Linked DNA regions of Homo sapiens: regions 2 and 3 are each linked to region 1. The links come from fine-mapping of genetic effects on gene expression. A gene starts in region 1. Each other region holds a variant in brackets. All regions are shown on one strand. Distances are from middle to middle.

Region 1 (5,000 bases):
AAGGAAGAAATATCATTATTTTAAAATCAATATTCCCAGTGTATATACAGGTAAAATACTAAGATTTTAATACACTTATTATTTATTAATTTATTTATTTATTGAGATGGAGTTGCTCTGTCGCCCAGGCTGGAGTGCAGTGGCATGATCCCAGCTAACTGCAGTCTTTGCCTCCTGGGTTCCAGCAATTCTCCTGCCTCAGCCTCCTGAGTAGCTGGGATTACTGGCACCAGCCACCACTCCTGGCTAATTTTTTGTATTTTTAGTAGAAATGGGGTTTCACAATGTTTGCCAGGCTGGTCTTAAACTCCTAACCTTAAGTGATCTGCCCGCCTTGGCCTCCCAAAGTGTAGGGATTACAGGCGTGAGCCACCGCGCCTTGCCAAATTATTTATTATTATTTTTTTGAGACAGGGTCTCTGTTGCCCAAGCTGTAGTGGCATGGTCACAGTTCACTGCAGACTCCCCAGGCTTAGGCGTTCCTCCCACCTCAGTCTCCCAAGTAGCTAGGATTACAGGCGTGTACCACCACTCTGGGTTAATTTTTCTATTTTTTGTAGAGACAGGGTTTCACTATGTCGCCCAGGCTGGTCTCGAACTCCTGTACTCAAGCAGTCCTCCCACCTTGACCTCCCAAAGTGCTGGATTTACAGGTGTGATCCACAACGTCCAGCCTATATACTTAAGATACTTCTAAACCATTTGTGTTCAACTTCTGTTCTTGCCCCATAGTCACCTTGAGACTCATCACTTAGCCAACTCCAAAAGCATTGCTGATTACTGTGAATTTTACTAAGGTTTTCTTAAGAGGGTTCCATTGTCTCAAAATTGTTCCTGAAATATCCTGTTACCTGTCTACCTGATTTTCTCCTATCTTCAGAGTTCCATTTCCTGTCCTCCCGCCTGTCATTATACCTTCCATAAGCCCCTACTTTTGTCCCAGCACTTTTCCCTCTGTCAGTTTACATATCCCACCAAGCAAAACAAAAATAGCAAAACAGTAATGCCTTCTGAATCCTCAAATTGCTCAATCCTCAGATTGCTCCTCAATCTGGAAAATGTTTTATATCAAGCCCATTTATAAATCAAGGATTGGCAATTTAAAAAATTAAAATAAAGAAAGGAGAATTGGAAATAAAATGAATTGGCTGGGCACGGTGGCTCACGCCTGTAATCCCAGAACTTTGGGAGGCCGAGGTGGGTGGATCACTTGAGGTCAGGAGTTCGAGACCAGCCTGGCCAACATGGTGAAACCCTGCCTGTACTGAAAATACAAAAATTAGCTGGGTGCGGTGGCGCACACCTGTAATCCCAGATACTCAGGAGGCTGAGGCAGGAGAATCGCTTGAACCCAGGAGGCGGAGGTTGCAGTGAGCCGAGATCGTGCCACTACACTCCAGCCTGGGCAACAGAGCCAGACTCTGTCTCAAAAAAAAAAAAAAAGTTTAATTCACGCAGAGCCAGCTGAACGGCAGACAGGAGTTTGGTTATTCAAATCAGCCTACCAGAAAATTCGGAGACTGGGGTTTTTAAAGAATGACTTGGCGGGTAGGGGGCCAGGGATTGGCGAATGCTAATTTGTCAGGTGGGAGGTGAAATCACAGGGGGTTGAAGTGGGCTCTTGCTGTCTTCTGTTACTGAGTGGAATTGCAGAACTTGTTGAGCCAGATTATGGTCTGAGTGGCGCCAGCTAGTGCATCGGAATGCGCGGTCTGAAAAGTATCTCCAGCACCAATCTTAGGTTTTACAATAGTGATGTTATCCCTGAGAGCAATTGGGGAGGTCAGGAATCTTATAGCCTCTGGCTGCAAGCCTCCTAAATCATAATTTCTAATCTTGTGGCTAATTTGTTAGTTCTACAAAGGCAGACTGATCCCCAGGCAAGAATGGGGTTTGTTTTTGGAAAGGACTGTTACAATCTTTGTTTCAAAGTGAAATTAGAAATTAAATTCCTCCTGTAGTTAGTTAGGTCTTCGCCCAGGAATGAACAAGGGCAGCTCGGAAGTGAGAAGCGTGGAGTCATTTAGGTCAGATCCCTTGCACTGTCATAACTTTCTCACTGTTAGGATTTTTGCAAAGGCAGTTTCGTGAACGTACAGAGACAGGCCCTTGCTATTATCCCTATTTTTTAGATAAGGATATCCAGGCGATGAGGAAGTTTTACTTCTGGGAACAGCCTGGATACGAAACCTTCACACGTCAGTGTCTTTTGGACATTTTCTCGTCAGTACAGCCCTGTTGAATGTTCTCACGGTGGGGAGGTACGTGTTTAAAATGCGGGGAAGGTGCTTTTATTTCACCCCTGGTGAAACTAGGGGAGCTAATTTTTTTAAACATGATTTTTGGCCCCCTTGAACCGCCGGCCTGGACTACGTTTCCCAGCAGCCCGTGCTCAAGACTACGGGTGCCTGCAGGCGGTCAGCGTCGTTTGCGGCGGCGCAGGCGCGGTGCGGGCGGCGGACGGGCGGGCGCTTCGCCGTTTGAATGGCTGCGGGCCCGGGCCCTCACCTCACCTGAGGTCCGGCCGCCCAGGGGTGCGCTATGCCGTCGGGAGGTGACCAGTCGCCACCGCCCCCGCCTCCCCCTCCGGCGGCGGCAGCCTCGGATGAGGAGGAGGAGGACGACGGCGAGGCGGAAGACGCCGCGCCGCCTGCCGAGTCGCCCACCCCTCAGATCCAGCAGCGGTTCGACGAGCTGTGCAGCCGCCTCAACATGGACGAGGCGGCGCGGGCCGAGGCCTGGGACAGCTACCGCAGCATGAGCGAAAGCTACACGCTGGAGGTGCGCTCGCGGGCGGAGGGGCGCTTCCGGCCTAGTTGGCGTGAACCGGTGCCTTCCGAGCCGCGTCGCGCGCCTCGAGAGACTCTCGGGCGGGTTGCGGGCTCCCAGCCCCGAGAGGGGTGGGGACTTCCTCTGCGCTATTCCGAGGCTCTTAGCCGCTCCGAGGGCTAACCCGCTCTCGCCGCGCTTTCCTGCGGCTTCCGAATGGGGAACGCGTCTTGCCCTAAAGTAGCACAGCAAGGCTGAGATCGCGCTGGGGTCCCGTTGAGGAAAATGGGTGTGTGTGGCCCATCTGACCCCCCGCCCGCCTTGTTAGTAGAATGAACTAGTGTCGTTGTCAAGACCACACGGACAAGGGGAGGGGACTTGCCCTTATTTGCACCGCGATTAACCGGGTTGTGGCACCTGGGTCTCCAGGCGTCTCCGTCTGTTCGCTTCCCCCTGTTAACCAAATTGCCTTTGCCCTGGCGTTGCGGGCGTTTGAGTCAACGTGCTGATGCGTTTTGGGCTGTGTTTACGTCTGTGTAAACAAATTAATACTCATTTCCCCCCAGGCCAGATGAAATGAGCCCTCCGCCGACCCGGATGTAGACACATGCCCCCATTTGTCACTAGGATCAGGACTGTGGCTACCTCGAGGGCTTTTTGGTCACCCCGGGCATTGCACAGGACTCCTGTTGTTGTTGCGATCCGGGTGTGTTAGGTCGCAGCCTTCGGACAGGGCTTGCAGATGAGAAAAATGGCCATTCTAGCCAGTGAGTGTCAGCTTTGTATGCACCTCCCCTTCATGGGCCAATGGGAAGTGACACGGAAGTACGGATTGTTTATCAGCTGTTTGACTGTGTGTGTGGCATTTAAACCTGAGGCCATTTGATTTCTCAAGTCGTTTTATAATTAATTTGTAGAAAGAGTCGGGCAAATAGGTCCAGGATGCAAAGCCTAACCAAGGTATTATTTAAATATGATGTTTTTGGCTATGTGTACTGATGAGTGAGGTTATTTTTAATTTGTATTTGCATTAATAGAATTTTAATTCAATTACTAGTTCCCTCTTTGAATTGTTAGGTCTGCAGAAGATAGTGTATGGTGGCTTTAGAACCCGACAGACCTGAAACCGCTGGAAAAGTTCAGTATGGTGATCTCTAAACTGGAGATATTTGTGTTTACCTCACAGAGCTGTTCTGAAGATTAAATAAGGCAATAATGTAGTTTCTGGCACATAAAGCACCCATATGGACAGTGTTTTCAAGTTTACTAAGCTCTTTGTATATTTACATGATCTGGCTGAGTAAGCTATGTTCCTATTCATCTCTCAGTGCCTTTCTGTAGTCTGGCAAAGAGAAGGACTGGTTGGCTTTTTATGTTGTTTTTTGTTTTTTGGGTTTTTTTTTGGTAAATGGCCTTAAAGGCTTCCAAACAAGCTCTTATTTTACCCTCAAGATAATCCTGTAAATCAGATAGAACAAGCATTATCGCCATTTATTTGAGGTATTTCAACTCATAGCAGTTAAGTTGTATGAAGTCTAGTGATACATGAGCAAGTATCACGTAATAGCTGGTTAGTAAATTATTTTTGAAAACATGTTTGATTACTCAATTCTTTTGATTACTGAGACTTTAGTTTCAGCTTCTTAGCCCAGTTTATTCAGTAAATGATTTACTCAGTAAAATATTCATCAAATATTTCTTGAGCACCTATTACTTGCTACACATTGTTCTAGGTGCTGGATATAGAGCAGCAAACCTGCTCTTGTGGGGCTTACAGTGAGGTACGCTGTGACAATATGGGATGTCATTCTCATGGGAGTGCAAGGGAAAATAAAGCTCTTATGATGTTTAATACAGAATACTGGTTATGGAATTTTAACTTGATTTCTTGTATTTTCTGTGCATTTTTAACCTGTAACTCATTCTCACAGTCCTCAGCCAAGAAAATGCAGCCTCTGAGACTGTTAAGTAATTTCCCCACTGTGTTATAGCTACTGTATGGCAGAGCCGGAATTTGAAACCAGATCTATTTGACCCTAGAAGATGTGACCATGAGATGTTAATTTTGAGGATAACTTTTTTAGTATTATGGAATTTTCAACATATATTTTTTAGGACCAAAGATAAACTAGGCACAGAGTCTACTCTTTGCATAAATTATTTAAAAGAGCTTCGCGCTCCATTTTGTCATCTAAGCACTGTAAAATTCTCACAAGACTAATTCTTCTTTT
Region 2 (10,680 bases), 67 kb before region 1:
GGCTGAAGGATGATGGGGTGCCAGATTCCCACCTTCCAACTGCCTGGCAGCATGCTGGCTGTAATAGAGTGCTGTCTGAAGCTCAGTTTTCTGACATGTAAGGATTCGTATGGTATGAACCTGGGCCTTTGGGAGAAAAGACAAGCAAGTGCTGAAAGAGAAGCAAAGAAACATTCTCCAGAGGACAGGAGGGAACTTCACACCCTCCACTCACCTCTAGCTCCCTCCTTAGGGCTTCCTGATGTTGGTGGCTTGCCTTCTTTTCCTATAGAAAGAGGAAGACAGAGCTCTTACTAGGGGGAGGCAGAGATGGCACAGCAAGAGACATGCCCCCAGAATGGCACCACTGCCCCAGGACAGGCCCACCCATGGGACAAGGTTATCAGGGACCCTGTGGGGATGGGGTGGAATCTGGGGGGTGAGCCTTCTTCCTCAGCCTGGGAGTGGATGAGACAAGACTGGGGCCTCTACATCTGAGTGCCCCCCAAACCCAGCAGTCATGTCATGAGCAAACAGAAATCACGTTACTTCTTCCAGCTGAGCTCGGTTCTGTTGTTTCTATGGGGAGAGTCAAAGGAATGCGACTGAGGGTGGCTCCCTTGACTCTATTCCCCAGGCCAGGAAGCCATAGGCAGGGGCCAGGAATGGATTTTAAAGGCAAAGTTCTCAGACCCAATGGGAACATGAACTGGTAAACTCTCCTCAACTCCCAAAGAAAAAGGATTTGGGTCTTTGTTGGTTTTTGCCCACAGCCACAGAACTGAAAGTCTGAAACTAGATTCTCTCAAAAAGACAGTAACATAAACCTTCAGAGATAGAGTGTGAGAAAAGCCCACCCTTCTGCCAGCTTGTGATTTAGAAAGATGCATTCACTCAACAAACATTGACTGAGCACATACTGGCCAGGGACTGTTCTTCACAGGAAGGATATAGGACGGAAAAGGCAGACAGGAGCCCTTGGCCCCAGGGTTTCCATTCTAGTCAGCCTTTAACTCTCAGACTCTCAGAGCTAACAGAAACCTCTGATACTCTCTAACTCTACCTCAGGAAACGCAAGCCCAAGAAGGATAGTTTACAGCAGGGCCTGGACTAGGGATTAACATAAAAACAACAATGACAAATCTCATTTAAACTTCACAAATGTAAGGAAAACAATACCACTCCTATTTTACAGATGTGAAAAGAGAGGCCCAAAGAGCTCAAGCAATTTGCCCTAAATCATATCCCTAGCAGATGGAGAGGCAGGATTCAAACCCAGAATTCTTAACCGGTACCTGGCAGTTCTTCCACAATCTTAACAATTACCCTCCACCACCCCTTGGGCCCTCTGTCTCCAGGAGCCTGGCCAGCCAAGACTCACATCCTCAGGTGAGTGGCAACCACCAGAAGTGGTTGTCTCAGGGTTAGTGCCATTATTTATTTTCTTCTTTTTGGTGTCGGTTGCTCCTGTACCAACACTAGGGCTGGTCTGGGGAGGAGAGTCTCTCAACTGTGGAAAGGAAGAGCAGTGATACTCATGAGAGCTACAAGCTCCTACAGTCACATCCTGCTTTACAGTTTATACAAAATACTATTATAGACCATCTGATTTAATGCCACCAAGAACTGTAGGAAGTGTTGTCACAATCACTTAGTGACTGAGAGGGATTGATACCATGGCTGAAAAAAAGGCAATAATGGAACTTAAACTCAGTCTTCTGACTCCGAGCTCCAGGATTTTGCCACAAATCAGCAGCTGCCAGGGACCAAAACCAGAGGCAGAGGTAGAAAAGCAAATATTAAGTAGGCAGAAACTGTATACTGTGTGGTTTAGAGCCATACACCCTCACACATCTGTTAGTGTTAAGAAGTGCACCAGTACCTCTCAAACTTTTACATCAATGTATCCTCATGGCAGAAGGCAGCCTTTCTGTTAAATCTGGGAATTTAACAGAAAGAGGATAACCCAAGCCTCATTTCAGAGAGAAGTCTTGTATACTCATAAATCTATGTGACTGTCATGCCTAAGTACATTAATGTTTTGTCTCTCAATAGAATCAAGGGAAACTGATGCTTCAGAAAGATGCCCCATATTTATCCTGTGGCACTCAAATTACCCCAGGTTGAGATGAGATGAGCTTAAATCCCTGCCTCTTGAGGGAAATCAGCCCAGTTTCAGGACGTGCAGTTCACAAAACTGCCCCATCTTCCCTTTATTTTTTCTTTTTATTTTATTTATTTATGTATTTATTTTGAGATGGAGTCTCGCTCTGTTGCCCAGGCTGGAGTGCAGTGGCGCATCTCAGCTCACTGCAACCTCCATCTTCTGAGTTCAAGCGATTCCCCTGCTTCAGCCTCCTGAGTAGCTGGGACTACAGGCATGCACCACCATGCCCAGCTAATTTTTGTATTTTTAGTAGAGAGGGAGTTTTACCATCTTGGACAGGCTGGTCTCGAACTCCTGACCTCAAGTGATCCATCTGCCTTGGCCTCCCAAAGTGCTGGGATTACAGGCATGAGCCACTGTGCCTAGCCTGTCATATTATTTTTAAAAATTTCAGTGACATTTCAATTAAGTTAAATTTAATTCTTACTGACCTGATCTCTTATCTTCTGTTTAATGATATATTAACAGATTACAGTTAATATATTACAGTTAATAATAATATACAGTTAATATACAGTTATATATACAGTTAATATATATTATTAACTGTATAACATACAGTTAATATATATTATTAACTGTATAATATACAGTTAATAATAATTACAGTTAATATATTACAGTTAATAATAATAACTGTAATAACTGATTACAGTTGAAAGGTGTTTCCCCTGTAATCACAAGTGCTAAAGGAAATATAACATGTATTCATTAGATAGATATCCACTAAACCACTGATTCTCGCATTGTAGTCCTTAGACCCTCAGCATCAGCAACACGTGGGAACCTGTTAGACATGCAAATTCCTGGACCAGCCCCACACTTCCTGAATCAGAAAGTGGGGAAGAGGGACAGCTATCTGTGCTTTAATAAGCCTTGAGATGCTCCCTGAAGTTTGAAAACTACAGAACTAGAATACATATGGTAGTAAGTGCTCATACTTTATCCAAGGTACCAGGGACTCTTCCCCTCTTTTCCATTCTCTTTTCTGTTGAAATAAAATGAAAACTTATTTTGACTTAATGGGTATAAAAAAGAAGGCAATGAGATGACCAGGGTTTCAAGTTAAGAGTTCAAAATTTAATCAGTGGACAGTGACAGGATGCAAGTCTTCTAAACAGATTACTGCAAGGAAGCTGATTATAATCTATACAGTAGGTATCATTAGTGTACTGATGTTAAATGTTTTGGGTGGATTAATGGTATTGTGATTATATAGGAGAATATCCTGGTTCTTAGGAGATATCTGCAAAAGTACTTAACAGTGAAATGCTATGATACTGGCAACTTACTTTGAAATGATTCAGGGGGAAAAAGGGCAAATATACAATCTTCCATATGGGGAAAAGAGAACACAAATATGACAAAATGTGAACTAGTGAATCCAGTTGAATAGAATACAGATGTTCACTGTATGATTTTATCAACTTTTCTGTGTTTGCAAGTTTTTAAAATAAAAAGTTAAGGGAAAAGAAACATCGCCCCAAATCTTTCTATGAAATGGAACCACAGAAAAAGCATAGAAGTGAACTCTTTGCAGAAGAGGGCACTGTACCCATCCAGACAGCATGGTTAAAGTGCAGGGTCTCCTCCAGGAAGCTATTCTCTGGTCTCTTCTGTGCTGTCACTTCCCCCCGACGCTGCCAAGGCTTTTTTCTAATAACTCTTTTTCTAAAGATGTAATTTTTTTCATTCATCTAAGAAAGAGACAAAAAAATTAGTATACATTTAGAAAATAAAATTATACTTGTGTAAAAACAAAAAATACTTTGAAAAGTGGGGAAGCAAAAAATGTACTGTTCTATAATTCTGTTCTGTTCTTACCATCTTTTTATTCTGCCAATGACCTCCTATTCCTGCTGCCTATGGTGAGGTGAGCTGCAAATAATTTCTTATCCTCATTTATTTAAAATTTCATGTTTATAATATACTAAACTCCCTCAGAAGCATTTGGGTTTATTTCTGGGCTCTATTCTATTCAAGTGATCTATCTGTTCACAAGCCACTATCAATTTTGATTATTAGAGCATCCTAAAGTTAAGTAATTCTTTTTTTTTTTTTTTTTTTAGATGGAGTCTCTCACTCTGTTGGCCAGGCTGGAGTGCAGTGGCATGATCTCAGCTCACTGCAAGCTCCTCCTCCCGGGTTCAAGCCATTCTCCTGCCTCAGCCTCTGGAGTAGCTGGGACTACAGGCACCCGCCACCACGCCTGGCTAATTTTTTGTATTTTTAGTAGAGATGGGGTTTCATCATGTTAGCCAGGATGGTCTTGATCTCCTGACCTCGTGATCCACCCACCTTGGCCTCCCAAAGTGCTGAGATTACAGGCGTGAGCCACCACACCTGGCCAAGTAATTCTTTGATTAGGATATTAGTATTTGATGGAGTCTGACCCTTTTGACTTTAAACTCAAATTCTTATTATCTCTAACTTCTAAAAGACAACAATTATGACTTCAGTGTATAAAATGCCAGCTTTTTCAGCTAACTTACAGAATTCTCTTATTTTCCTAATATTGATTCAGTTTATCCTTTCGGTTTTCTCTCCAAACACTAATGTTTTCATTTTAGTATCCCTAATCTTTTTTTTTTTTTTTTTTTTTTTGAGACAGAGTCTCGCTCTGTTGCCCAGGCTGGAGTACAGCTGCACTATCTCAGCTCATTGCAACCTCCATCTCCCAGGCTCAAGCAGTCCTCTCACTTCAGACTCCCAAGTAGCTGGGACACAGGCACATGTAACGCGCCCAGCTAATTTTGTATTTTTTTGCAGAGATGAGGTCTCACCATGTTGCCTGGGCTGGTCTCAAACTCCTGAGCTCAAGTGCTGAGAGCTCCTGAGCTCCCAAAGTGCTGGGATTACAGGTGTGAACCACTGCTCCTGGAAGTTTTCCTAATCTCTTATCTTTTGTAGTTGCACTGGCTTATGTGGCTATTAACTGTTAGTGTTAATTAACAGGGGTAACTGTAATACTGGACATTTTGTCTTATTCCTGATCTTAAAGGGATGTTTGTAGAATTTCACCCATCATGCATGATGGCAGCTTTTGGCTAGATGTATTTATAACCCACTAGGAGTTAAAAAAAAATCAGAAATAAATATTGAATTTTATCAAATGTCTTTCTAACATATATGGAGGGAACCGTGTATTTTCTCCTTAACGTCTTGCAACCAGGAATCATATCAGATCTTCTAATAGTGATTCAAAAGGATAAGGTTCATGTGGTTGTGTGGCATAATTTTCCCACTGTGCTATGTTTGCATCACTAGTCATGAATGAGAGAGTGTGTGTGTTTTAACGCCACCTTTGTCAGGTTTGGGTTTTCATGTTCTAACAGTTTGAAAAGAAAAAAGTTTGAAAGTTCTATTTTATTCTTTATCTGTGGAAATTGCAATAAATTATTTGTGATTTACTGAAAATTTCACTTGAAGGTCTGATATAATTTCAAAGCAAAACCAAACCTTTCTTTCTTTTTTGTGGGGGAAGGGTGGGAGGAGTGGGATGGGAGGACACTAACTCATTGATACTTTATGGTTTTTTTCCCCCTTTAGAATTTATTTTCTTGGGACAATCTGACAACGATGAATTTAATTTAGATTCGCAGATTTTAAAAATAATTCTTTTGATATTCTTGGTATAGTTTATTTGCCTGTTCTCCAGCTCTGTTGCCCAGGCTGGAGTGCCTAGTCCAATCATAGCTCACTGCAGCCTTGAACTGCTGGACTCAAGTGATCATCCCCGATAAGCCTCTCGAGTAGCAGAGACTATAGGCTCATGCTACCACACCCAGCTAATTTTTTAAATTTGTAGTGGAGACGGGGTTTCACCGTGTTGTCCATGCTGGTCTTGAACACTTGGGCTCAAGCAATCCTCCCTCCTCAGTCTCCCAAAGTGCTGGGATTACAAGTGTGAGCTACTGTGCCTGGCACTATTCTCATTTTTATTATAATAAAATTTTGGGATTGGATAAATAATATAGCCAAATTATTGGAGCCAGACTATATCTACTAAAATTAATGAGATTTCACTTGTCTGAAATCATGACATACTTTGGGAAGATATGTTTGTCCTGGTATTAATTAAAATTACAGCTATTTGACATTCACCAAAATCTGTGGAGCACCTTAAAGACATAGGCGGTATCCTCTAGAGCAGTCAAAACAGTTACAAGAAGAGGCTCTCAGGACAGCTTTGTCAGGAGAGACAGGCTATACATATAAAGACACAAGGGAGAGAGAAAAGAAACAACTATTTTACACGCAGGCCCCAAATTGAAAGCTATAGGCTGGGTAACGCAGGCACTGATTTCTGCAAATCAGATGCTTTCCATATGGCATCTCTATAAGATGTGCTTTTGCTTTAGAGAGTAGCAGCAAGATCTTCAGTTTTCTGTTTGTTTGTTTGTTTGTTTGTTTGAAGACAGGATCTTGCTCCACCACCCAGGCTGGAAAGCAGTGATGTGATCATAGCTCACTGCAGCATCAACCTCCTGGGCTCAAGTGATCCTCCCGCCTCAGCCACCTGAGTCGCTGGATTACAGGCATACACCACCATGCCCCACTAATTTTTTTATTTTTTGTAGAGACAGGGCCTCACTATGTTGCCCAGGCTGGTCTTGAACTCCTGAGCTCAAGTGATCCTCCCGCTTCAGACTACCAAAGTGCTAGGATTACAGGCATCAACCACCACACCTGGCCAAGATATTTGTTTTCAAAGGATGGTTAATAGTTACAACAAGAAAAATAGGGAAGGCTAGGGCACAGTGGCTCACGCCTGTAATCTCAGCACTTTGGGAGGCCAAGGCAGGAGGATCACCTGAGGTCAGGAGTTCGAGATCAGCCTGGCCAACACGGTGAAACCCCATGTCTTCTAAAAATACAAAAATTGGCCAGGCATGGTGGAATGCACCTTTAATCTCAGCTACTCAGGAGGCTGAGGCAGAATCACTTGAACCCGGGAGGTGGAGGCTGCAGTGAGCCGAGATCACGCCATTGCACTCCAGCCTGGGTGACAGAGCAAGACTCCATCTCAAAAAAAAAAGAAAGAAAATAGGGAAGATTTGTTAGTAGTCTGTGAGTTCCACAATCATGCGAAGCATATTAAAAATTCCTTAAATTCCTAATTACCTTTTCCTGTCTTTTTTCAAAAGAAGATTAACTTCATCAGAATTTTTCTTTACATTTAAAACACCTGCATCTTCAGTTGCCTCATCATCCGGCAAAGCAAAAGTCACTCTTTTCAAGCTTTCTTTACATTGTTTACTGTCTTCTCTTTCTTCCAGGTGATCACCTTCATCCCTACACTACCAAAACTCTTATAAAAAGAAATATATTGTTTTCCATTAGAAAAACAAAAGGAAACATATTTTCCCTTAACAAAGTTCCTCTTTTATATGCCTAATGCAACCAGATACTTAGAACTTCCAAAATCATTCAGGTATTAAGGAAGAGAAGCTATCATTTAAGTGAAATGCTATGTAAGAAACAAAAAGGGTCCAATATATAGAAAATAAATTATTCATCAATCTATAATACAAACCTCTTATCTCACAAAAATAACAGGATTTTGGGGGCACAAAACCAAATCAAAGTTCCTGGTAAGAAAGGTTTGATTGCTACTGTCAGTAATATTTTTCTTCATTAAATGATCTCTAATGTCCGTTTAAATCCAGTGACTTTCCTCTGGCTATCTTGAGAAGATCTGATAGGAGAGTATCTAACTTCTTAAAACAAACATATGTGAAAACCACAAATACAAACACTGATTGGGCAATTCCAGCTCACAAAGTAAAGGATGTTTCAAAATACTCACATTTCAGAAATGCTTCCTTCTTCTGCTTCTTCTTCAGCAATTTCATCATCTTGTTTGAACCCAGCTCATCATCATGATCACTTGCTATGTCTTCATCACTTTCAACTGGATCAAAAAAATCTTTGTTGTTCACATTTCTGGAACTTTTA[C/A]CTGACTAAAATAAAAAGATTTTTAAAACTATTAATTAGGAATAGAAAAATACATCATTAACACATGCATATATATATACTGTATGTCTATATTACTTTCTAACTTAACACTACAAGTCAAAAATAGTTACTAGGTGAAATTGGCAACTAAAAACACTACCATAAAACTATTATAAGAACAACTGGAACATAAACTGAATGGAAGTACAGATTCATTTATAACTGATAAAACAAAGCATAATATATCTTAGCTCTAAACCTTCTAACTACAATTACATCTCTCCTAGAAAAACAGAACAAAAGCTAATTTGAGGAGGAGGAAAGTGCTCTCTCCTTTCTCAAACTTAACCTTAAGTTTTTTACTTCCAAACAGTCCCCTTTTATCTTCATCAGAATCAATATCTTCAAAAAAAAATCAGTATCTTCCACCTCATCATCATTATCATCTTTTCGTTCCTCTTCTTTTTCTCTGTTTTCTAAATAAGCCTCCATTTCAGAGAGTTGGAAGAATTTCTCGTCTATTATGGACTTTTCTCTTGGTTTTCCATGTCCTGTGTTTTGCACCTTGCTCTGCTGTTCCAATTTGCTGATATCAAAGTCAAGGTCAGAATCCTCATCACTGAAAACTGGGCTTTTCCTCAGCTCAAATTTGCTTGAGTTTCTAGCTTTCTTGCCCACTTCAGGATTGTCACCACCCATATCTGACACTTCCTCTTCCTCCTGTAAATCTTCTAGGTCCTCCTGGCCACCAGTCTCTGTCTCTGAACCATCCTCTTCACACTCCTGTTCTTCACTCTCTGGGAGAAGACTGATGTCTTCATCTTTGTTTCACTAACTGCATTTTGGAAGCATTGTAAAATTGGTTCATTTTGCAATTCCAGTTGTTGCAAAGTCTGCTCATCATCAAAACTTTCTATCACAAGTTTTTGTAAAGGGCTTCCACAGATCCTTCCATTCTCTAATATTTTATTAAAGTCATAAACCACTTTTGTTAAAGAAGTGAACTTTGATGACAATCCATCTTGAATCCTATTGGGAGGAATTAAATGAGATTTAGAATTATAGGTAATAATTTCACAGCTCTCTTAATTAAAAGAAAAATAAAAACCCCAACTCTTCTGTAAAATCAAATTTGAATGAAGTGTAAGTATAGATTCTGGCCCCAACAACATACAAGCTGATGAGCCACAGTGATATATAAAACCTGTCAATCAAGTATTTGTGAATCAGCTGTATAGATTTTAGGCAGGAAAAGCATTACAAATCTGTTTGCTTGGAGATACATAGTGAATTAGCCTTAAATTATCAACTCTGCTATATTATACACCACTCCATTCATTCATTCCCTTATTCCTTCAGTGATCAACATTTGCTTTGGCTACAGTGGTCAAGGAAAACCTCTTTTGGATGTGACATCTCAGATGAAACCTACAGATAAGGATAGTCTTATAAAGATTGGGAAACATGTATTCCAGGCAGAAGAAACAGCAAGAACAAATTCTCTAAGATGCAATTGAGCTTGGTAGGCCTGAGGAATAAAAAAGTGAGCACAGCTAGAGTGTGAAGGAGGCAGAAGGTGAAATTGGAGAAACTGATGGGAGCCAAATTCTACAGGGCTCAAGGGTAAGAGTTTGCCATTTTAAGTGTAATAAGAAAACATGAGAAGATTTTAAGCAGAAGGATGAAATGATGATTTACAAGAAGGAAGAAGAAAGGGAGGAAGGAGGAGGAGGAAAGTAGAGTGATTAGAAGGTTGATGCAGCATTCCAGGCAAAGGATGATGGTGATTTAAGCTGGAGTTAGAGCAGTGAATATGCTGAGTACAGTCTGGAGGTAGAACTGACAGGATTGCTAAGGAATTAGATACAGAATAGAGAAAAATGAAGACATCAAAATAGCAGCCTAGTTTTATGTGTGAGCAACAGGAAAGACAGAACTGCCATTTACTGTGACAGGCAAGGCTTGAGTGCTGGAGCATGGGGAAAGGACTTCAGCGGATGGCAGAGTATAGGTGGGTAGAACAACATTCTACTCTATTTTGGACACAGTGAATTTGCGATGCTGAGAGTACCAAAATTTTAAAAATTGTTAAAAGCCGTACAGTGCGGATATCCCAGTTGTGTGCTACTGAATTCCAACTAAGCTCAGTCTGTAGTCGCTGTGAGCCAGGAACTCAAGGGAGAGGTTGGAGTTTGAAATATAAATGAGTCATAATTTTATAGATCATATTTGAAGTTCTTCAACAGAATACCCATAAAACTTTTGTGCTGGGAAGAGACAGGAAAGTTCTAATTCTCAAGAAGCTTAGTTGGGGTGGACAGACAAGTGACGAGTTTGTACTTTCAATAAAGTATGATGACAGGTAAATACTGAGTGCTTTAGGAGTACATAGGCGGAAGGAGAAACCAAAACAGTTTGTGTGTAGGGGTATGGCGGCAGTAATAAGCCTCCAGGGGAGCTTCTAGGCGTTAATAACTGAGGTTATTTGGTGGATTTCAATAACATTCAACTGAGAGAGCCATACTGTAAAAATTTTAACAATTTTGAAAATTGTGATAGCCTAGGAAAGTATAATC
Region 3 (8,804 bases), 720 kb before region 1:
ATTACTGGTTTCATAAATTTAGGGTTTATACCAGAGATGTCCAGAATATCCCAGATGTGACCTGCAAAGGCAGAAGAATGTGCTTAATTTATACACAGCTGAAGGCGCCTATCTAAAGGAAGGGGGTGGTGGGGTGGGGGGAAGGGAGTGGAGGAATAAAGACAAAGAAAGAAACCAGATTTGCTCCTAATGCCAGCCTGAGTTCCCTGCTGCTCTCCACTGTATGCAAAATGCCAGTTTGAGTGAGAAAAACCACAAAGGAGACCTAGAGGCAATGGAAATTTAGGGGGCAAAGGCATCCAGGCTGAATCCTCAAGGGGAGTAGAGAGAGGGGGTTTGTGTTGTCAACTGGCATGGGCAAAGGACAAGGCAGTCGGGGTTGGGGAGACAAGAGAAGATGCTTCCCTGTCCTTTAACAGGTCTTTTGAGTCAAATTCGTCTATTAAGATTATTAAGTTTTTGTTTCTTTCAAAGCTTCTGGGAAAAGGAGAGATTCATCTTGGCAGAGATTCTCATGGGGATACTGAACCTAACTGTTAACTCACCCAGCCACACAAGCCACTCTTTTTAATCCAGGTTCTTCCAGCTTTCCTATGATAAGTGTGTATCTGTTTCACTCCACAGTGATCCAGCAATAAAATTTTTTACATGTGTGTTTGTGTATGCGTACATTTGTGTGTAATTAAAGCAAAAATAGGAATTTGTTTTCATCTCTCTGGGGTTCCCTAGTCAGGGAAGTATTTTTCTGGACAGTCCTGTGTTCCCTGCTCTCCACCACCACCCAGTGATCAGAAACTCTTTGGGAATTTGCTTATTTCCTCACTGACTTTGAGTCTCTAGGCTTGGATTTACATTATAATTCTGGTTACACAGGCTTGTCCATGTTGTCAGTTTCTCCAGGGGAAAATAGCAGAGGCTTCATTGGCCTCCACAGTGAGCCACATTTCTGGGGAAGCTTCTCTAGGGGATGTGCCTGGTCTCCCATCTCCACCCAGCAGAGAGCAGTGAGGAGCCTCTCGCCCAGTGTGTCTGCTTCCAGGGCTCCCTAATTGATGAACAAATGGATTCATGAATTCTCCAAGCTGAGCCTTCGTTAGGGAGTCCCTGAGGACAGAGTTCATCATGTCTCCAAAACAATCAGGCCATTCGAAAAATGGCAGATAGAGTCAGAAAGAATATATCTCCCAAGAACATATCAAGTTCAGCCTTGAGGAACAGGATGAAAAGAAGCTTCTCTATTGCTCTTTTTCTCAATAGTACAAAGAAGGAGGCAAATACTGTCTTATCCCAGAGGATGAGGGTGGTTATCAGAAAGAGGAGCCATCAGGTTAGCTCAAGAAAAAATGGGGATTTGTTGGAATGGTTGGAAGGCTCAGGGAATCCAAGAATAAGAAGTGCTCTGGATCTCTGGAGATAATTCTGACATAAAGGGAGATACTCGCTCCAGCTCTGTTTCTTTCAGAAGCTTCATGGTTTGCTTCCCTGCTTCTTTCCTTTTACCAGTTTAATTCTCGCTTTCTCTGCAGTGTGGTCCTCTCTGCTCCATCTCACCATGGGTTCCACCTTTGTAATGCTTTCCAATTAGGCTGCCCTAAAAAACCTGTCCTGGGTCATGACGTTACAAAATCAGCACCCCAAGAGAGGATCTGATTGACTGAGCCTGAATCAGGGCTTCAGTCCTGGTCCAATCAGCTGTGCTGGGAGTAAAGTGGTCACATAGTTCACTCAGCCGGGGTGGAGGAAACAACGCTACAGGAGGGAGGAGAAGGAGATGGAGGCAAAATGATTAACAGCATTTGATTTATTTTTTTATCCCAGTGTCCTGCCAACTCTCTGCTGCAGTTTTTAAGGAAGTTTTGTCGTCACCCAGCTTGGGTTGATTCGTTCTGGCTTCTAAAATACCTTTTCAAATCTACTTTTCATTTAAAGTGTTTCCCAGACATAAAACCAGACGTGTACAGGAGAAGAGAATATACCTAACTGGCATGTTTTAGAGTCACCACGAGAGAAGGGTCGCCGTATGTGTTTTTGGTGACCTCTGGTATCTCTAACTCTGGCCACAGTGCTTGGCTCATAGTAAAGGCTCAAAAAATAGTTGTTAAAGGAATGAACCAATTAATGAGATTTTGTCAAAGGCTGTAAGCCTTCAGCCTCTCCATTTCAGGCAACCATTCTTCTGGATCCCATGTACTCTTAACAGACAGTGGTTTCAGACTTTGGCTGTGGGTATCGCTGAGGATACAACCAGTCACTGCTTGTTGGGCAGTGGCTCCCAAGCCCCAGCTGATGTCTGCAGGTAGCCAGCATGTGTTCAGAGGGCAGATGTGCACGGCTTGGGAAGCTGGCTCCAAATCTGCCACAATAAACCTAAGCCCTGGACCGCTCAAGGGAAGACGGGACTCAGAGGAGCTCTTGAATATAAAGGAGGCTCCAGCGGGAGTGTGACAACCAGTACAACCAAGAAGGCACGTTGTCTCCGTGCCCAAATGATCCTAAGCACAGGAAAAACAGACAAACTTAACAAGCTCTAGGATATTTCACTGGAATCCCTTTAATGGTGCTAAAAATGGTCTTTCATGCATTTACTTTAAAATAGAGAAGTGTGCTAGCCCCTGCAATTCTACTTCTAGAGATCTGTTTTATAGAAATATTTAGCCTTGTGGCAAAGATATATACACAAGTGTATTCACTGCAGCAGAATTTAAAATAATAGTTTTTTTTTTAAATGGAGGCAACTGAAATGTCCATCAGTCAGGGAATGACAATACTAAATACATATGCTCATATTTGTGGATTAAATGTAGTTATCAAAAGCGCAATAGTAGATCTATATGTACCCTGACATGGAAAGATGCCAAAATATGATTCTATTTTTGTTTTAAAATAAACTGTATAAGCAATGTGACTATAGTTAGCAATACTGTATTGTATACTTGAGATTTACTGAGAGTAGATCTTAAGTGTTGTCACAAGGAAAGAAGAAAGAAAGAAAGAAAGAAAGAAAAAGAAAGAAAGAAAGAAAGAAAGAAAGAAAGAAAGAAGGAGAAAGAAAGAGA[AAGAAAGAAAG/A]AGAAAGAAAGAAAGAAAGAAAGAAAGAAAGAAAGAAAGAAAGAAAAAGAAAGAAAGGGAAAGACAGAAAAAGAAAGAAAAAGGAAAGAAAGAAAGAAAGAAAAAATTGAAGAGAAGAGAAAGGAAGGAAGGAATGAAGGAAGGAAGGAAATGGTAATTATGTGAGGTACTGGATATGTTAATTAATTTTATTATGGTGATTATTTTACAATGTATATGTATATCAAAACATCAAGTTACACACTTTCAGTATATACAATTTTTACTTGTCAATAATACCTCAATAAAACTGGAAAAAGTAAAAGAAACTCTTTACACATGTTGTAAGAAGACTGTATAAATCCATGGACACAGTTTGGCAGATTATACACCCAAGTTTAAAACTAATCCATAGCAGAAGCCACTGAGGGGAATTTTCATGCTGCTCCTACTCACTGCTCTCTATTTCTGTGTCAAGTTTTTATAAGCATGTTTTTCTTTTGTAATTTTCAAAAATTTGACAAAGTAAAGAAAATGAAAAAATAAAATAATAATTTACTAACCATGATTCCCATATAAAGAACCTGAGTCTCAGATACTAATTTACTGTAAATCACTTGCCTGTTTTGAGATTGGCACAATCTAATACCATGTGACTTACAAGAAGCAATGGGTTTACACTACATCGTGATGGATTTAAGTTAGATGTAAGGATCCAAATTATTATGGACTGGTAGTCACTGTGATCCATTAGTAATTTCTAAAGTCACTAAAGTGATTTAGAATGTGGTCTCTTGTGTCTTCTAGACTGAGATTTAAATTTTACTCACTTATAAGCTGGGTGACCTTGAGCAAGATACCTAACTTTTTCATCTTTTAAATTATTCATTTGTAAAGTTAGGATAATGATAACATCTACCCAATAGGGTCATTGTAAAAATATAGGTAAATACTACATGTTAAGTGTAGTGGCTGAGACCTGGTGAGTACTCAAAAATCTTAGCCAGCATATTTGTAGCATCCATGAGAGACCCTGTAAGATGTAAAAAGCAAGTCACCTGTCCAGGTTCCTACTGTATAACCTGGAATCCCCAAGGGGCCCATGGCTGGCTTTCTGCAATTCAGAGAATCACCTAAAATTACGTGGAAAACTTGGTGGGAAAAGGCATGTGTAAATCTCTCTAGGGAGAAGAATACAGCCTCCTCACATCCTTAAAGGTACTCAGAAGGCCAAGGATCCCTGATGGGAGGCCACTTCTCTCTAGAAACACAGCCTCCAGCTGAAACTCACCAGCTGCCATACCCAGCTTTTCAGGGCCACTCTTTGTCTCTGCTGGGGATCCTATGGCCACACTATTTACCTAGAGCTGAGCCGGCCCTGGGCTGCCCTACCATCAATCTCACTAAGTTAGAATAAATCTAATCTAACAACAAGTTGATAAATCCATAAATACCTTTTGTCACAGAATTGACCAGTTGGCTGAATTCACCAGCTGGACCACTGAATTAATCAGGACTATTTCAATTTCAGGTAACGGAAAGCCAGCTCATTCTCAATGGAAAAGAATAGAATCTAATCATGCAAACAAGTCCAGGAGGGCTTCTAATTTCAAGCAGGGCTTTATTCAGGTGCTCCAACAATATCATCAGGAATCTGTCTCTGTCTCTCATCTCTGCTTTACTCTGAGTGGGCATCAATCTCAGGTGATCAGGTCACAGTGATGAATTTCGGCAGTGCTAAGCTAGCCACCCCAGCAAAAGAGGAGCTTCCCTTTCTCAGGAGTTCCAGCCAAGGGTCAAAATTCACACCATCATCCCACTTTGGACATTGCCTCACCTTGGAACCAATTTCGATGGCCAAGGAAGGAGGTGGATGGCTCTGATTGGTTAGCCCAGAGCCCAGCCTTAGGGGCTGGGGATGGAGTCCCCCACACAGAACCTCATGGAATAAGAGTGGTTGAAGGATGATGGTTACTCAGAGTAAATTAGGGTGCTGTTACCCAAAGAAAGGAGAATAGTAAATCAGGATGCTGTTACCCAAAGAAAGGAGAATAGTAAATCAGGGTGCTGTTACCCAAAGAAAGGAGAATAGGTGTTGAACTGGACGGCTGTCTGCTAACCTGTTATTACTCTTCTCAAAGACACAACCTCTGCATTGTTTTAGCCAAAACACAATAGCCAAGTCTTTTCTGATAAAAACAGTCCAGTCTGAACCTGATTCTGCAGACCCAAGCCACAAGTCCAGGCAGAAAACTTCCAAATCAAGGGATGGCCGCAGACTTCTCCAACAGATAAGCCGTGCAGACACGGCTTCTGCTACTTAACGTCCTCTAGGTAGCTCTCCACTGTGATTTGCAAGGCTCATATTAGCCTGTCAGAAGGGAAGGATTAACATGTATTTTGATTTCTGTTGAAAACACGTTGTTTCAGAAATAAAGTTGGCATGGCAGGCATCTTGGTTGATTTAATCTCTGACACAGGAAGTTTATTTATAGCATCACAGTCCTCTGAATGTTTAAAAACTCAAGCATTATAAGCCTGCTGTGCTTTTCCTGCGAAGTATGGAACGGCACTAAATGAATAATGCCACCAGAGCCAGCAGCAGAGCCAGGATCCAGAATCAAACACCGCTTTCATCTGCTCCTGATAGGTGTGAACTCCCCTCTGCCGGGGCTTGGATCCCTCCTGCAGGATGGGTTTCCTGGGCTCCCAGTCTGCATCTTAGCTCTCCAACCCCCTTTCCCAATCTGCCCTCTTTCTCTTTTTGAACTCTCTTCTGGATGGCCAGAGAAGTTCTAAATCAGATGAGCTTCCCTGCACGGCATCTTCCACCGAGATAACCCTTTCTCACGACAGTCCTATTCCATTCAACATGTGTCAAGAATATTGTTGAGAAATGGCGTGAAAGCAGTCTAAGCCGCCCTCCTCATTTTCCAGGTCAGATCGAGTCTCAAACAACACATTTTCCCCCAATAACTAACTCTTACTAAAAATAGATATTGACGGTAAGGATGTGGGGTAATTTAGGCATTTAAGACTGCCTTCCTGTCGCGGAAAAATTGATTATACTCAAGTTGAAAAGGTAAGTTGCTCTGGGTGTATGTGAAAGAGCTACCCGGGAAGGGGGAATGGGTGGAGGGGGGATGAACAGAGATTGGTCGATGCTTGCAAACATACAGTTGGATAAAAGGAATAAGTTCTCATGTTTGATAACAGAGTAGGGTGACTATGGTTAAGAACAATATGTTGTATTTTTCAAAATTGCCAGAAGAGAGGAAATGTTACCAACACATAGAAAAGATAAATACTCAGGTGATAGATACCCTAAATGCCCTAACTTGATCATCACACATTCTATGCATGTAGCAAAATTTCACATGTATCCCATAAATATATACAAATATATCGTATCCAAAAAAATTAAATAAAGAACCAGACAATGACGTCCTTTTAAGCAGAGGATCCCAAATGATGGCTGCAAGCTTAAATATTTTATATTAATTTACAAGAAAGAACCAACAGCCTCAACACTATAATCTGAAAGCAGTGTACTTTTACAGGTCAAAGGATCAGGTAAATCTTTTTTCTTGAATTTTAATGTCAGAGGCTATGGTTTTGACGTTTAGACACAAAACAGATGGCATGCACTTTAAATCAAGCTGACGCCACCTCATTCTAGAACCTGGCAACAAAGAAATTTCATCCCAGCATTTTTCTGTAAGAAAAAGAATGGAAAACAGACAGAAATTTGCTCTCCCTTCCTAAGCATACGCTTCATTACAGGGAAGTTCTCATCAAGGGAAGGAAGATCTCAGAACCAGATCAGGGATCTCTGGAAGAGGCATGTGACAAGCCTGTGAGTTACTAATGTTGGATTTTATGATGATGTCCACTCAAAAATCAGAACAAGAGTTATTTTGGAGATAAATATTGACCTGACAACCAAAAACTGTACCACTGTGATGAGCGGACATAGGATAATACCTTGATCCTGGAGTTAAAACTGAGTTTGAATTCCAAATGCACCAATTACATGACTATGAGCAACTTATTCTTTCTCATTAAGCCTCAGCTTCCTTATCTGTGTAATGGCAATAATATCTACTTCATAAGGCTCTCATAAAAATTAAATGAGATAAACTGAATATTAAATAAGAGTTCTCGGCCGGGCGCAGTGGCTCACATCCGTAATCCCAGCACTTTGGGAGGCCGAGGCAGGTGGATCACCTGAGGCCAGGAGCTCGAGAACAGCCTGGCCAACATGGTGAAACCTCGTCTCTACTGAAAATACAAAAATTAGCCGGGCTTGGTGGCAGATGCCTGTAATCCCAGCTACCCGGGAGGCTAAGGCAGGAGAATCGCTTGAACCTGGGAGGCGGAGGTTGCAGTAAGCCGAGACGGCGCCATTGCACTCCAGCCTGGGTGACAAGTGTGAAACTCCATCTCAAAAACAAAACAAAACAACAACAAAAGAGTTATTTGTATTACTAAAACTCTAAAAGCCAAAGACAAGACAGCAGAGGCCAAATTGCCCCAGTAGGACATACAAAAAAAAAAGATTGTTTTTGACTCGTAGTCATCAATAACTTTGTGGGAAGGCAAGAAGTTTGATGGACAAGGCCAGTATTGATTGAGGATTTAAAAAGAAATTTCTGGGGCACCCTGACAGATGTTCTGTTGTCACCAAAGCTCGAGCTCCCAAGGGCGTCGTCCCCTGGATCCTCATCCTCTACTTGGAGGTAATTACCTGCTGTGCCCCATCCACCCAAAACCGCTGTGCTCCATGGAAATACTGTTTGTCTTCAGCAAACACCCCCATGTCTTCCATTTCTTCCCTGAACATCTCCTTCAAAGTGACAAAGATTTTTCTTATGACAACAATTCTCTCCTTGCGACAAATGTTCTCTTCTTGATCAAACTTTAGTCAGGCTTCCAACTAGATCCCACCCTTAAGCATATCCCCCAAGAGCTCAATTTTAGCAAGAATCCTGCGGAGTCAGTTTAGCCAGAACCCCCTCCCCTCAATATCTGATCACTCTCTATATCTGTTCAGGTTTCTCATCCTCCATCATCGTCCAGGTGATGTCTGGCCTGCCTTCAGCAGGAAGCCAGTTAGGCAGATTTGGCCAGAATCCCCCATTTACCCTTGAAGTTTCGTTATAGTAATTTTCATCCATCAACACCCACCTCACCCTACCCCTCTTGACTATGAATTTCCACTTTTCCTTGTTGTATTTGAAGGTGAGCCTGATCTCTTTCACTTACTACAAAATCCCAATTGTAGGAGGCCCCTGGAATAAAGTCTTTCGTAGCATATTTAACAAGTATAACGAATAATTTTTTTCTTTAACACTTGTCTTTAGCAAATCCTGGTTATCCTTGAGTGTCGTAAGTTGGGTTCCCTGCAGGCAGATGCTGAAATGGAATTTGGTGTGCAGGATATTTATCAGGGATCACAACCCCCGTGTCAGAGGTGGGAAGAGGCAGAAATGGACAGAAGGAGACGCTGAGCATGCCTTCTGTGTCTTCGAGAGAAGCAGCTCTCCTGCAGCCCTGCAGAAACCAATTGCTGGGGGTGATCTACTGACAGCACCTCCTGCAGCAAGGCAACAAGTCTTTCCTTGGTGGGGGATGTAGGTGGCACTTCTCTGTGTTCACCACCCCAGGCACCCCCAATTATCCTGCAGCCACTCAGGTGGGGCTTTGCTTTTTCTTCTCACACTGTGCATACTTCAAGGCCTGAAGTGGTGGCCAGTGTG

Evidence for each region. PIP is the estimated chance that this variant, and not a neighbour inherited with it, causes the effect.
Region 2: its variant is fine-mapped to the expression of RBL2 in whole blood (TOPMed, PIP above 0.99).
Region 3: its variant is fine-mapped to the expression of RBL2 in B cells (Fairfax 2012, PIP 0.95).

What each region holds. Positions count from the first base shown.
Region 1 is chr16:53,432,016-53,437,015 of GRCh38, forward strand. RBL2 (RB transcriptional corepressor like 2) reads left to right here and starts at 2,456. Exons shown (of 22, transcript NM_005611.4): 1 at 2,456-2,781. The coding sequence starts at 2,542. RefSeq lists a silencer at 2,511-2,730 and an enhancer at 3,341-3,450.
Region 2 is chr16:53,362,187-53,372,866 of GRCh38, forward strand. It overlaps the pseudogene LOC101929000 and the pseudogene MPHOSPH10P1. Among named protein-coding and RNA genes, the nearest start is that of RBL2, 67 kb to the right of the region's middle. The variant C/A (reference allele first, on the strand shown) is at 8,105.
Region 3 is chr16:52,708,485-52,717,288 of GRCh38, forward strand. No RefSeq gene overlaps it. Among named protein-coding and RNA genes, the nearest start is that of LINC03064, 110 kb to the left of the region's middle. The variant AAGAAAGAAAG/A (reference allele first, on the strand shown) is at 3,057.